Homo sapiens: one gene and its partner. The protein of the gene in region 2 interacts with the protein of the main gene of each other region in a biochemical or structural test. Each region holds a gene or a part of one and is shown on either strand. Other genes may lie near its edges.

Region 1 (7,025 bases), on a different chromosome or scaffold from region 2:
AGTAAAACTTCATCTGTTTTGTTCACTGCTGAATCTCCAATGTGTCAGGGTGTTTTGCCCTCTAGAGTAAGCACCCAAATACTTATTGAAAGAATTAATGAATGACTAGGTATTAGCTAGGAACAGTATTTCAGAATGAACAACGCTCAATGTCACAAAATTCTAATCTGGTTTATTTTTGAAAATACAAGAGAGAAACATTCACAGCACCATTATCTGGGAGTCTAACATTATAAGGATTATTAAAGGGGCTTAGTATGAATTTTAAAGCCTAAGAACAGTTATATATTAAGAGGCAGAGTCCCACTCTGTTACCCAGGCTGGAGTGCAGTGGTGTGATTTTGGCTCGCTGCAACCTCGGTCTCCTGTGTTGAAGTGTTTCTTGCACCTCAGCCTCCCAAGTAGCTGGGATTACAGGCGCCTGCCACCACGCCCAGCTAATTTTTGCATTTTCAGTAGAGACGGGGTTTTACCATGTTGGCTAGGCTGGTCTCAAACTCCTGGCCTCAAGTGATCTGCCCGCCTTGGCCTCCCAAGGTGCTGGGATTACAGGCATCAGCCATTGCACCCGGCCTGACTATAATAATTTTAAAAGCTATAAAGCTTAATTAGAAGCCAGGCAGTCAGGAGAGGCCCTCTCAGAGACCCCGGTCCCGGTCCCAAACACCTTTACTTCCACACAGGCATGTGTGGTATGTTTTCTTTACATTTGATTTTCTTCCTTTTTTATTGTCTGACTCACTCTCTAAGTTTCTCAAGTCAGAGCTGTGACTCATTCAATCCCGCCTCCCCAGAATCTGGTATGCTGTCTGGCATATAATGATACTCAATATCAATAAATGTTTGCTGGTTGAAGAAATGGCAGTATCAGGCCAGGCGTGGTGGCTCATGCCTGTAATCCCAGCACTTTGGAAGGCTGAGACAGGCGGATCACGAGGTCAGGAGATCGAGATCATCCTGGCCAACGTGGTGAAACCCTGTCTCTACTAAAAATACAAAAATTAGCTGGGCGTGGTGGTGCGCGCCTGTAATCCCAGCTACTCGAGAGGCTGAGGCAGGAGAATTGCTTGAACCTGGGAGGCGGAGGTTACAGTGAGCCGAGATCGCGCCACGGCACTCCAGCCTGGCAATAGGGCCAGACTCCGTCTCAAAAAAAAAAAAAAAAAAGGCAGTATTTCCTATTGTAAACTCTAATCTACTGGGTCCAAAATATTGGACACTGTTGCCATATAATTAACATACCTGGCTGGGCGCGGTGGCTCACGCCTATAATCCCAGCACTTTGGGAGGCCGAGGCGGGCGGATCACGAGGTCAGGAGATCGAGACCATCCTGGCTAACACGGTGAAACCCCGTCTCTACTAAAAATACAAAAAATTAGCCGGGCAAGGTGGCGGCTGCCTGTAGTCCCAGCTACTCGGGAGGCTGAGGCAAGAGAATGGCGTGAACCCCAGGGGGCGGAGCCTGCAGTGAGCCGAGATTGCGCCACTGCACTCCAGCCAGGGCGACAGTGAGACTCTGGCACAAAAAAAAAAAAAAAAAAAAAATTAACATACCTAAGGTTTTTTATTTTGAGATAAGTAAAATTTGGTAACCATTTCTAATTTATTTTTAGAGATGGAGTCTCACTCTGTCACCCAGGCTGGAGTGCAATGGCGCAATCTCGGCTCACTTCAACCTTCACCTTCTGGGTTCAAGCGATTCTCCCGCCTCAGCCTCCCGAGTGGCTGGGATTACAGGCACGCGCCACGACACCCAGTTAATTCTCATATGTTTAGTAGAGACGGGGTTTCACCATGTTGGCCAGGCTGGTCTCAGACTCCTGACCTCAAGTGATCCACCTGCCTCAGCCTCCCAAAGTGCTGGGATTACAGGCATGAGCCACCACACCCAGCCTAGTTTTATTTTTAATAAATGAGAATTTTAGGAAAACTTACCATTTTTTTTAAAATAAGGGAAAACTGGTTTCTCACCCAAATCACATAAGTCAAAGAATTCTTCACTATAAAATGAACTTTGTTTCATAAAGTATGTATGAAAGCAAGTTACTAATATTTCAAACCATTTAAAAACTGCATACAAAGTTACATCAATATTTTCTACAAAACAAAAGAGCATTTAATTCCAAATGGCCTAATCACACCCTAGTTATAGAATTCAGGGTCTACTCCAGGGACATAAGTCCAAATATGGTTGGAATTCAGAGATCCTGCAGACTTCAGGATGTATCAGTGACAAGCGAAAAGCTCATCCTATCCTAAATAGAGTTTAAATTCAAAATCACGGTACATTAAACAAAACATTTTAGTGAATATATTAAAAAATTAAACGTACATATGCCAAAGAACAGAAGCACAACAGATGAGAAAACCCAAGAATACTCTAACATATGTTTTGGTCCTCTAGCACTTTAATCAATTGAATCAACATAAAATTTTAGGATTCCCAATATTTCTGTGTGAATCTGACACCAAAAAGGCAGCTGGAGAAACAGCATCAAGTGACAATATGGAAGACATAAAAATGGACTCTTACAGGCCAGGCGCAGTGGCTCACACCTGTAATCTCAGTACTTTGAGAGGCCGAGGTGGGAGTTTGAGACCAGCCTGGCCAACATGGTGAAACCCCATCTCTATTAAAAATACAAAAATTAGCCAGTTGTGGTGGCACATGCCTGCAATCCCAGCTAATTGGGAGGCTGAGGCATGACAATCACTTGAACCCGGGAGGTGGAGGTTTCAGTGAGCTGCGATCATGCCACTGCAGCCCAGCCTGGGCAACAGAGACTCGTCAAAAAAAACAAAAAACAAAAAAACAAAAAAACAAAAAACAAACAAACAAAAGGACTCTTATAATCTTGCAAAACCAAGAGAACTACAGGCTCTATAATAGCTAGGAAGTACACTAGGAAAATCTATAGCTAATGATAAGTATAATCAAATAGACTATGACTATTAAAAAGTGAATTATGAAAATGCTAAAAAAAAAAACTTCATCAAGGTGCTAAAATATCACAGTAATCCAAGACTTTTTGAAGAAAATATTTGTTCCTATTATTTCAGAATTATTCTTTCCAGAAGGCTTTTTCCTGGACCTGTGTCAGTATCAAAAGTCAGCCGGTTATTCTCTTAGCTAAATATAAACTGAAAAGACAGCAGTTGCAGGATATTACAAAGAAAATATGGCAACCAGGTTGAAAAAGCATGAATATTTGATAGAGCTTTACACCATGCCACAGTAAAACATTTAATGCAGTAATCTGAAACACAGCAACATATTAATATATTTGTGGTACAAAAAGGATTCTGAAGTCGTTTAAAACATCTTTTGGGAAAATCATGGCCACCAAGCAGCAGCTACCACAGCATGTCAATCTTGGAAAACCCTGGCCTAGGTCTTGAATTAAAATGGTAGAGCTGGCTGGGCGTGGTGGCTCACACCTGTAATCCCAACACTTTGGGAGGCAGAGATGGGTGGATCACCTGAGGTCGGGAGTTCGAGAACAGCCTGACCAAGATGGAGAAACCCCGTCTCCACTAAAAATACAAAATTAGCTGGGCGTGGTGGCGCATGCCTGTAATCGAGCTACTCAGGGGGCTGAGGCAGGAGAATCACTTGAACCTGAACCTGGGAGGCAGAGGTTGCGGTGAGCCAAGATAGCACCATTGCACTCCAGCCTGGGCAACAAGAGTGAAACTCTGTTTCAAAACCAAAAACAACAACAACAACAACAACAACAACAACAAAAAAAAAAAAACAAAAAAAAGGTAGAACCTCAGAGGTTTCTCCTGAAAAGAAAGCTGCTAGTTAAAAATGGTTTGGTTGCCCATTCAGGGAAGACAGTGAACTGAGCTAGGAATCTGATGCTGCTCCCACTTCAGAAAATGAGGAGGTATGGAAGGTGATGCACTGGGATTCAACGTCCCTGAAAACTGGACATAGAGCCATAAGCAAGTAACTTTTATTTCTGAGCAACCGCCCAAGTGTAGTCTGGCTGTCTAGTTAGCCTGCCCAGGAGATCTGTTCTTCTCCTTCTCTAGAGCAATGGTTCTCCAAGTTAGTCCCCAGACCTCATCGCAAACTCGCTAGAAATGTACATTCTCAGGTCTTCAGCCCAGAATTCCTGAATCTGAAACTCCAAGGTTGGGCCTAAGAATCTGACAAGCCCTCCAGGACTCTGAGGTATACTAGTTTGAGATCCATTGCTCTAGGGGAATTCTAGGGAAAGAATTAGTAGCAAGCTGTCATTCTTTACAGTCCAGCCACGTGACAACAGCTAGTGACAGAATGCAAGACCCTGTGTTCTGCTGCTAGGGTCAGTGACCAAGACCAAGCATCAGATTTTCTTTGACAAAGGGGGAAACAAGATGTGGGAAATGAGTCAGGACAACTGGAGAAGGGGAGGATGGTTAATTCTACGATCAAGTACCTCTATAAATACCACCAAATAAGGATAAGAGTTTCAGTTTTTTGAAAGGCTGAATAGCCACTTTTGCTTCTGCCCTATCGGATACATTGTTTCTCCACAAATTGTCAAATGTATCCATTTGGCTACATCAAAGAGATTCTGAATTAACTCACTGCAACATTCACAAATATTTACTGAGTACCTACTATTTTGTCCAGAACTGTGCTGGTGCTAGGGACACAACAGAAGTTGAGATAGAATCTTGCCCTAGTGAAAAGGCATAGAAAATATGCAACGAAACAACACTTCAGGTAAGGTTAAGTGCTTTAGAGAAACAGAACAAAACAAGAAGCTGTGACAATGACTAAAAAACTATTGAATGGAGTGCTCAGGGACGGCCTTTCTGGGTAGCTGCGACCTGAAGAACAGCAGTCAGGCCCATGAAGATCTGGGGACAGAGCAAGATCAGAGGTGTGTGACACCACATGAAGTCAAGGCGGCAGGGCCTTGTGGGCCATGGAAAAGGGATGGGTTATTCTGTAATAAGAGCAGTGGGAAGGGCTTGCTGAAGGGGAGTGGCAGTTTCTATTTTACGTCTGTGAAAGATCATTCTGTCTCCTGTATAGAAAATGGAAAGGGCAAGACTGAAAGCAAGAGGCTTTTTCCATCTTCCAGGCAAGAGAAAGACGGTTCTGGTTAGATTAGGATGACAAGAGTGGAGACAGAAAGGAGGATTTGGCATTTAGTTTGGGGTTACACCTACTGGACTTGTGACAGGGTGGATGTGAAGATGAGGAAAGACTACTACTTGAGAGGTCACTGCCATCTACCCATGAATAAGCTAATCAGCCAAGGCAGAAATAACAGACATGCCAATGGCTGAAGATGCTTGCGAGGCCTACCTCAGAGAATAAGAAATGGGGGCTGGAAGAACGATCATCCGGCCAAGAGCACGTGTCCTGAAGCAACACCATCCCAGAGCACCCAGGCTCTGCACCTCAGGCTAGTCACTCCTCTCCTGGCCTGTTTCCTCACCTTCACAATCGATACCTGCCTCAATGGGCTGTTGTGACAAGTGAGATAATGTAGTTAATACAGTGTCTAGCACTTAGTAAACCCAAGAGTGCAACTTAAAAAGAAGTCTGATGGCTTGCATGTAAATAAGGATGAGGTACTACTTTGTACCTGCCATGATGGGGCTCCAAGCCCAAGAGGTGTGAGTCATTCAGTATAAAATATAAGCAAGAGCTTCCTGAAAAAAGGACCTCACTCTCCTTGGACAGCACATAACCCAGAAGAGGACAAACAGTGGCCAGAGATGCTATAAAAAGGGTTCCTGAAACGGGTAGCAGTAGACACTTCTTACTAAAGCCCTTTCTCTCTCCAAGATTAAACACTCCAAGACTTAGGAAGAACATATCCCTAAATCCATGCCTTTTCCATTTCCTGCAGGCTGGTGAGGGAACAGGAGTTAAAAATGCCTGGGCTCTAGTCCGAGCATCACCAGTCTCCCTTGGCTTTTGGCTCCTCCCTCAGTAATGTGGGTGGATACTGCCCCTGGCTGGTGACCAGGCTGTGGAGAGTTAGATGAGACAACATCACAGGTAAGTCGAAGTCTATGGGACACTCTAAAGCACTATCCACAATACAACAGTAATAGTATTCAAACATTTACTTTGCCAAATGTGCTGCTCTGAACTTCACTGTGCCCCTTCAAAATTAAGCAGAGGATTCCTGACTTCATATTTTGTATTCTACTTTTACCAAATTACTGCAGAGCTACAATTTGTGGGGAGGTGGGAGGGATAGAGATATGAAGAGAAAAGAGAATGTGGTGGGGGAAATAGAGTGGTTTTCAGTTAACATGAAGGGGGAAAATCATGATCATCAAAATTAACCTTGGTAATCCCTTAAGAAAATAATAGCTTGCAGCCCGGCACGGTGACTTACGCCTGTAATCCCAGGACTTTGGGAGGCTGAGACGGGCGGATCATGAGGTCAGGAGTTTGAGACCAGACTGACCAACATGGTGAAACCCTGTCTCTACTAAAAATACAAAAATTAGCCAGGCGTGGTGGCGCGTGCCTGTGATCCCAGCTACTCAGGAGGCTGAGGCAGGAGAATCGCTTGAACCTGGGAAGCAGAGGTTACAGTGAGCCAAGATCACGCCACTGCACTCCAGCCAGGTGACAGGGCGAAACTCCGTCTCAAAAAAAAAAAAAAAAAAAAAGCTTGCACTAGCCCAACAAAGCCAGTTTCCCCTCCATCACTGGAGCAGGCTGCTATTTCTTTGGCTGAGCACAATATGAAGCTGTTCTTTGAATGTAGGGCCCATGTTGTACAAAAGGCACTTAATTACAATTGGCATAAGATGCTCACACAGTGAGACATACAGGAACTGAGAAGAACTAAGGGACTGTGAGTTTTCATCCATTTCCAGCTCTCTCTGGGGAAGACTCTTGAATGGAAGGGAAGACTAATCTCTGCTGCCCACATGGTTAAGTTTTTATAAGCTGAATGTGCATATGAGGCCACTCCGATGTATGCAAATTTAAAATCATGCCCCACCAGGGCTTACCCCTCTGGCACTCATTTTCTGATTAAATGTCAGGGAAGCT
Region 2 (7,587 bases):
CCTCAGTCTGTGGGGTGCGGCCTGTGGGGTGCGAGGAGAGGGGCACAGGCTGGGAGCTCCGGTCAGTCCTGGCCCTCCTAAAGGGCTTGAGTTCAGCTGCCTTATCAGGGAACCAAGCCAAACCAGCACAGACCTAAGGATCACCCCATGGATGGAAGCCCACCCTTCTTCAGCCAGTCTACAACTCCTGGTATCCGGGAAGGTCTGTGCACACACAAGGTGTGCACACACACACACACACACACACACACAAGGCGTGCACACACAGCTACAGAGTGAGCTGAGTAGTCACAGCCAAGCACATGTGTGCTTCTAGGAGGCCTGCTGGGCACGGGAGGCAAAGACCATAAGTGGGAGAAAGGACAGCCTGAGTTTCATGAACTAAAAATATCTTGGTGACAACGCATTGGGAAGAAACAGGAGAGGCCCGGGGGGCAGCTTCTTGATTCCAGTCCTCAGACACTTTCTCATGGAAAAATCCTTCAGACTGCAGGATTGTTTTGATAAGGAAATGTGATCAAACATTAGGGGTCATTTCATTGGATCTGAAAGGAATTTAAAGTTGAATATGCCTCATCTGTGTTCACTCTTTTTTTTCTGCAGCAGTTGCCTGCAATTCATATATGTTTTTAGAAGCTAATTTAAAATTGCCTGCAGAAGAAAAATGATTTGAATTCAGGATATTCCTGAGATTTCCATTCTACAACGTGTAAAACAAAGATTTCATTTAGACAAACTACCCCACCATAATCTTTCTGAATGCCTGTTGAAGAATGCCTGCAGATATGACTGTCTTCTCCTCTTCTTTTTCTTTTCAGAGCATTTGAAAGTCACTAACTCCTTAATCCCAGGAGAAGCAGGCTTTAACATTTCCTGTCTCTACACCTTCCAAAAATGAGTAACCCTGAGTTAAGAACCTTTCTATCCGACATGTTGGTACATTACTCAGACCTCACTTCTGTTTAACCCACCCCATGCAAGGAACAGAGCAGAGTAACTACATTATCCATCTTTTGATGCTCCATCATGGAGTGACTGGTAGCTGCAGCAGCAGATTAAGAATGACTGTGGTGTGTGGCCTTTAAGGATTAGAGCGAGGCTGGCAAGTGCACAACAGTTAGCCTGCTTTCAGATAATGGTGCATCGTTGTTTGAAAATAAAATCAGGAACTCATTGCAGGTGAAATATCTTGAAATTCCTGTCCTTTCATCCCAGGGGAATAGAGAGAAATGCCTAAAAACATGACACGGACTACACCAGGACATCCCACAGAAACCAAAAGTCCTGCACCAGCCCATCCCAGTCAGCTAGGGCCTGTTTGAACTGTATTGATGGCAAGTAATTGCCAAAAAGAAACAATGACAATTTTTTTTTAAGTCACGGTCTGGAAAAAGTTAAGGATTCTGTGTATCCGCCATCTAATAATGTCTCTAATCACAGTCATCACCCTTACATGGTATTAGGATGTGTTTCATAGTTTCCCTTCCCCTCCCATTAAAGGCCCCACACACAGTGACTGGTCCAGCTGAGGAGTGGTTTCCAGGTCCAGCTACAGCAGTAACTCTGGCTTCTGGAGCTGGGCTTGTCTGCCAGTTCTCTGGCCTGCCTTGACTCTGTGGACAATAGCACAGACTATCCTTCCTGGGTAACCCAAATGGGACATGAACTAATTCGAGAAACTCCCTGTTTTCTCCTATTTGGCTAGAGCCAGTAATAAGGCCTCAATTCCAGGCAGCCCTCCCGCAGAGACACGTGTCTCCCAGCCTTTCGCCCTGACTGCTGCTTTACCTCTTGCCTTGAGAGCAGACGAGTGAAACAGAAATCAAAGCAGTTGACATGGAAGGGGGGTGAGCACCTACTAGGCATTTGGTAGCATGCTGGATTCTGGGAGGTAGAAAAATATCAGGAAACAAAGTCCTTTCCTCAAGGGGGTAACCAACTGGTAGTGGGAGGTAAAATTAAAATATGTGAATAATCGGTAAACAAAACAAGTCTTGAAGACCACCCATTACCACTACCCCTCTGGGACTATCCTGGCTTTGTTTTATAAGGGAATTTGACACACTCATGTTAGATCACCACCCCCCATCAATTTACTGATGAAGAAATCCAGGCTTAGTGGAGTCAGAGTGAATTGCCTAAGTCATGGAACCACAAGAAGTGAAGAACTTGAAACCAAGTTTCTTGTCCTTTTAAAAAATTTGGCCTCTTGTTCTCCTGTTCCTTTAAAAAAAAAAAAATCCCCCTATTCTAAGATACCATCTTGAACTTGAAAGTCACAAGAAGCTTGATTAGCTTCTAAGATCAAGTTCTGGCATTTCTCCCCCTTGTTCCCAAAGGCTCCGTCCAGCGCCAGGCTGGGAGGGCTGGAGGGCGGCTGCGGAGAGGGGCCGGGAGGCGGCTCACAGCCAGCACAGAGCTCAGCAGAACTTCCTGGCCCAAAAATGTGCTGTTGATTTTTTTCCCCCCTGCACGAAACAAGGATTGAGAAAACTGCCACTGACGTGTTCTGGGGCTGAAAGCCAATTACTTAATCTTTGCCATCCCTGGCTCTCTCTTTGGAGAAGTGGGGCTTGAATTCTTGAGAGAAACTTGTGGGGACACTAAGTACCCAAACGAATGGTTCCCAGGCAGCTCCGAGCTGTCCCCGTGTGCGAGCCTCCTCTCCTCAAAGGGTTAACCCGGCGGGGCTCGCTGGCCTGAAATACTATACTAGCAACACATCCTTGCAGCACAAACTTCACTGTCATTTTCTCAGCTAAGATGGTCTCTGTGCGAACAAGTTAAAGGAGGGGAGACGAACACAGAGGAAAGTAGAGGCAGAATGTTTCAGTAAAGGAGAAACAGCGTGCTTTGGGAAATAGGTCAGAGGTGAAGAAATAAGACCAGGCAAGTGGCAACTCCGAATAACTTACCTTAGATCCACCACGGACAGACAGACTGGGCCCGGAGGGTAGTCGGCTCTCGGCGGCTTCTCGTCTCCCTCCACCTTCTCCGGGCCCAGGTAAGTAGAAGAACAGGCTCTGAAGCAGGAAGTGGAAGCTGTATGCAAATTTCTACGGAGCCTAGGAAGCCTCTGCTCAAAATCTCCCTGTGGGCAGTGAATCAACGGCTGAGGAGTCACTTTATTTCTTAAAACAGAAACCTCCTTCATTCATGAGAAAGGGCCAGTGACCAATTAGGCGGCATTTTTGTTTTCGCCACCCAGCTAAGAAGCTGCCCAGGAGTGGGCAGAACCTCAGTGTAGTCGCAGTGCCCTCGCCTGGGAGGGTGTCTCCGGGAGGAGATTGAACTCGAATGTTAAGAATTAGTAATCATTAGCAGCTCCAAAGGAGGGGATTGTGGGCAGATAATGGGGAAGAAGAGGGAGTCGAGCTTCTTCCACCTCCTCTAACTGCTTAAAACATCAGCATTGCCGAGCGCGGTGACTCACGCCTGTAATCCCAGCACTTTAGGAGGCCGAGGCGGGAGGATCACGAGGTCAGGAGATCGAGACCATCCTGGCTAACAAGGTGAAACCCCGTCTCTACTAAAAAATACAAAAATTAGCCGGGCGTAGTGGCGGACGCCTGTAGTCCCAGCTACTCGGGAGGCTGAGGCAGGAGAATGGCGTGAACCCGGGAGGTGGAGCTTGCAGTGAGCCGAGATCGCCACTGCACTCCAGACTGGGCGACAGAGCGAAGACTCCGTCTCAAAAAAAAAATTTAAAAAAACCCAAAAAATCAGTATTTGCTGCCCATAACCACTGGGGGGGTGGGGGGGGGCTCACTGACCATGCTCCTGGACACACGTGTACACACAGCATACACATGCCTGTGGCTTGTGCACACACACCACCCTATTGTCAGGCACAAAAAAAGTGGTTAATTTTAAGAACACACACACACACATACATACACATGCACACATGCACACTAACCTCCTCTGGCTGCATTTTCCTGACCTCAAGATTTTTTTTCTCCCCTTTCCTTCCCATTGTTTAATCAGTAGCCTGCAGAATTTATTGCATGAAGGAGCGCTGCAGGCAGGATGATACCCAGCGATGTGAACAGAGAGAGAGAGAGACAACTGCCTTTCGGGGCAGCAGTCAGTAATGGGAGCAGTGTTAGCTGGAGCTTTGGAGTCAGGAGGACCTGGGTACGAACTCAGCCATGTCACTGGCCAGCTGGGCGCCCTGGGCAGACACACCATGCTCCTGGTGCTGGACTTGTCTGCCTGTTGAAGGGGTCCAAGTGTCAGTCCACTCAGCCGGCTATCTCTCTACTCTCATCAAGGGGACAGGCCCCAGAGCATCCCTGTTCAGATTGTACCAGGTTCTGCTCAAGCAGGATACAGGAAGCAGGTTGCTCAACATTCCACAAGCAGAGAAAATGCAGCTTGTTTTTAACACAGTATACACAGGTTGTTTGCATTTGGTTTGCAGAAAATGATGCAGCTATTAAAAATCATCAATATGTATGTATTATCTGAGCCACTAACATGAAAAAGTGGCTCTGAGATATTATTTAACTAAAAGTATTATCTTATTTTTTGCCAATATATGTGACATATACACACACATAGATATGTATATCGATTTTTTTTAAGAGACAGTGTCTCAGTCTATTGCCCAGGCTGGAGTGCAGTGGCGCAATCATAGCTCACTGCAGCCTTGACCTCCTGGGCTCAAACAATCCTCCTGCCTCAGTCTCCCGGGTAGGTGGGACTACAGGTGCACACCGCCACACCTAGCTAATTTTTAAATTTTTTCTAGAGACAGGTCTCCCTGTGTTGCTGAGGCTGGTCTTGAACTCCTGGTCTCAAGGGATCCTCCCACCTTGTGAGCAGCAAGCCACCCAGGTGCCGAGGCAAGAGACCGAGGACACGAGCTGTTCCAGTACAATAAAATATAAAACAAGAATAGTTATACCAGATATAGATCTTAGATATGATTATATATGAATATCATTAATCATTAGTTTGTAGCAATTACTCTTTATTCCAATATTACAATAAACCTTGCTCTATAATCATAACCTAGGAAAAACCAGGCCATACGAGATAAGAGCTGAGGGGACACAGTGAGAAGTGACCAAAAGACAAGAGTGCGAGCCTTCCGTTATGCCCAGACAGAGCCACCAGAAGGGCTCCTTGGCCTAGCGGCGATGCCAGCATCTGGGAAGACGCCTGTTGCCAGGCGGACCGTGGTCTAGTGGTAGCGAAAAGCGTCAAGGAACAACACCCGCTACTTAGCAGACGGGGAAAGGGGTTCCCGGGGGAGTTTAGAAAAGACTGCCCCTCCACCTCTTGTGGAGGGCCTGACAGCAGTCAGCCTTGCCCACAGTTATCCGGAGGCCTAACCGTCTCCCTGTGATGCTGTGCTTCAGTGGTCACGCTCCTAGTCCGCCTTCATGTTCCATCCTGTACAGCTGGCTCTGCCTTCTAGATAGCAGTAGTAAATTAGTGAAAGTACTAAAAGTCTCTGATCTACAAAAATAATGGCATAAACTGTCTTTCTCTTTGTCTCCTCTCTCTCTCTGCCTTGGCTGCCAGGCAGGGAAGGTTCCCCTGTCCAGTGGACACGTGACCCACGTGACCTTACCTATCATTGGAGATGACTCACACTCTTTACCCTGCCCCTTTTGCTTTGTATCCAATAAATAACAGCGCAGCCAGACATTCGGGGCCACTACCGGTCTCCGCGCATTGGTGGTAGTGGTCCCCGGGGCCCAGCTGTCTTTTCTTCTATCTCTTCGTCTTGTGTCTTTATTTCTACACTCTCTCGTCTCCACACACGGAGAGAGACCCACTGACCCTGTGGGGCTGGACCCTACACCACCTCAGCCTCCCAAAATGCTGGGATTGCACGTGTGCCTCACTGCACCCAGCCCAACATATAGATTTGTGTTTGCTCACCACTGGGCCCCAGGGGACCTAGCACACTGCCCTGCCTAGGACATTGTGGGCAATCACTGTGTATCTGTTCAGTGACCAAGTTAGAAATATCTGGAAAGATGTATGCCAAACTGTTTAGTGGTGCTCACTTCAAGGGAATGCGATTGAGGAAAATAAATAAGGATAGAGGGCTTTATGATATATACATATGGACTATTTGATTCTTTTTTTCACAATAACATGTAGGACTTTTTCATTTAAAAGAATGAAGTTTTTTAAAAAAGTTTTATTACCTTGGCTTTGAAGTTTCTGCTTCAAAATTATTATTAGAGTCATCTTTTGGAGGGTAGGAAAAAATAGCATTTTCTGTGGTCCGGTTGGTACCAGGATACTTTGAGAGAGCTACTGGAGTTAGGAAATGGGAACGGAAAAGCAAAGAAGAATGGCAAGGGGAGGAGCTAGCAGGGAGAGCGAGGGGAGCAGGAATGGAAATATTTTTCATTTCTCTTTGTTGTCCTTAAATGGATTGGGAAAGGCCTGAAGATGCTCTGCCGAGTACCACCTCTGAAATACAACCCGCCAGGGAGAACAAAGGGAAACTTTTCTCCAGTTCTCCACCAACTGTTTTCCTGGGTGTGAGACCTAAGAGCCCTGTAGGAAGAACACAAGTGCCGAAGTGCTGCTTTTCATTGCTGTTGGCTGGGCCTTCCTCTTGTCTACAGTTTGTTTGTTTGTTTGTTTGAAACGGAGTCTTGCTTTGTCTCCCAGGCTGGAGTGCAATGGCACGATGTCGGCTGACCGCAACCTCTGCATCCTGGGTTCAAGCAATTCTCTCACCTCAGCCTCCCGAGTAGCTGGGATTACAGGTGCCTGCCACCACACCCAGCTAATTTTCTTGTATTTTAAGTGGAGACGGGGTTTCACCATGTTGACCAGGCTGATCTCAAACTCCTGACCTCAGGTGATCCGCTCGCCTCCTGTCTAAATTTATCATGAGCAGAAAGGCAGGCACTTCAGGGAATGAGTTCATGGTTCCCTCTTAGAAGCCTCTGCTGGGGCTCCGGGCTGAAAAGCAGCCTGAGGATGGCCACTGTTTAGAGAGGGTGTCCTGAACAGGAGAAATCTCCTCTGAACCTGCCTGAGGCAGTTATGGTGAAGTACAGGTGACCCAGGCGAACACACACAGCTTTTGAATTGCTGTCACGGGAGAGCAACTCTTCACTGAGGACCTACCCTACACTCCCTTTGAGCATATCTCATCCTCCAAACAGTCCTGTGAGGTGTGTTTACTGTCATTCCCACTTTAACTTTGAGGACTCTGAGGCTCAGAGATACTGAGTAACTTCTGCAAGGTCACACAGCTCATCTATGGAGGAGTCAAGCCCAGAGCAGTCTCCCTTCCAGGTGGATGTTATTACTGCCCCCTCCCTGCACCCCGCCACAGCCCCCCAACCCCTACCCTCCATTGCCCTGTTGCCATCTGTTCTTCCTACATGCTTGGGTGGAGCACAGGTAACACACTTTCTTTGCACAACTCTTGACAACGCTTAAGAAGGGAAAAAAAGGTGTAGACAATAAAAGGGTGGGGTTGTGACTGTGCCACAGCCTGGTGCTGTGTTTATATGTAAGGATTGCTGTACAGATCATAAATAGAATAGTCAAGATGTGGGTCAGTCTTCTCTCTCTTGTTAGAAATCTAGAAGGGGAGCATGT

The links. Proteins that work in one complex are often made in the same cells at the same time.
Region 1: the proteins of TRAF3IP2 (region 2) and UBE2V1 form a complex in vitro, tested with the Homo sapiens proteins (one study listed by BioGRID).

The regions. Positions count from the first base shown.
Region 1 is NC_000020.11:50,103,132-50,110,156, forward strand, and holds part of UBE2V1 (ubiquitin-conjugating enzyme E2 variant 1), read right to left. Parts: intron 5,981-7,025; exon of another isoform or gene 5,842-5,980; intron 1,361-5,841; exon of another isoform or gene 1,243-1,360; intron 1-1,242. UniProt on the Homo sapiens protein: Has no ubiquitin ligase activity on its own. The UBE2V1-UBE2N heterodimer catalyzes the synthesis of non-canonical poly-ubiquitin chains that are linked through Lys-63.
Region 2 is NC_000006.12:111,602,861-111,610,447, forward strand, and holds the start of TRAF3IP2 (E3 ubiquitin ligase TRAF3IP2), read right to left. Parts: upstream 3,019-7,587; 5' UTR 2,916-3,018; intron 1-2,915. UniProt on the Homo sapiens protein: E3 ubiquitin ligase that catalyzes 'Lys-63'-linked polyubiquitination of target protein, enhancing protein-protein interaction and cell signaling. Transfers ubiquitin from E2 ubiquitin-conjugating enzyme UBE2V1-UBE2N to substrate protein.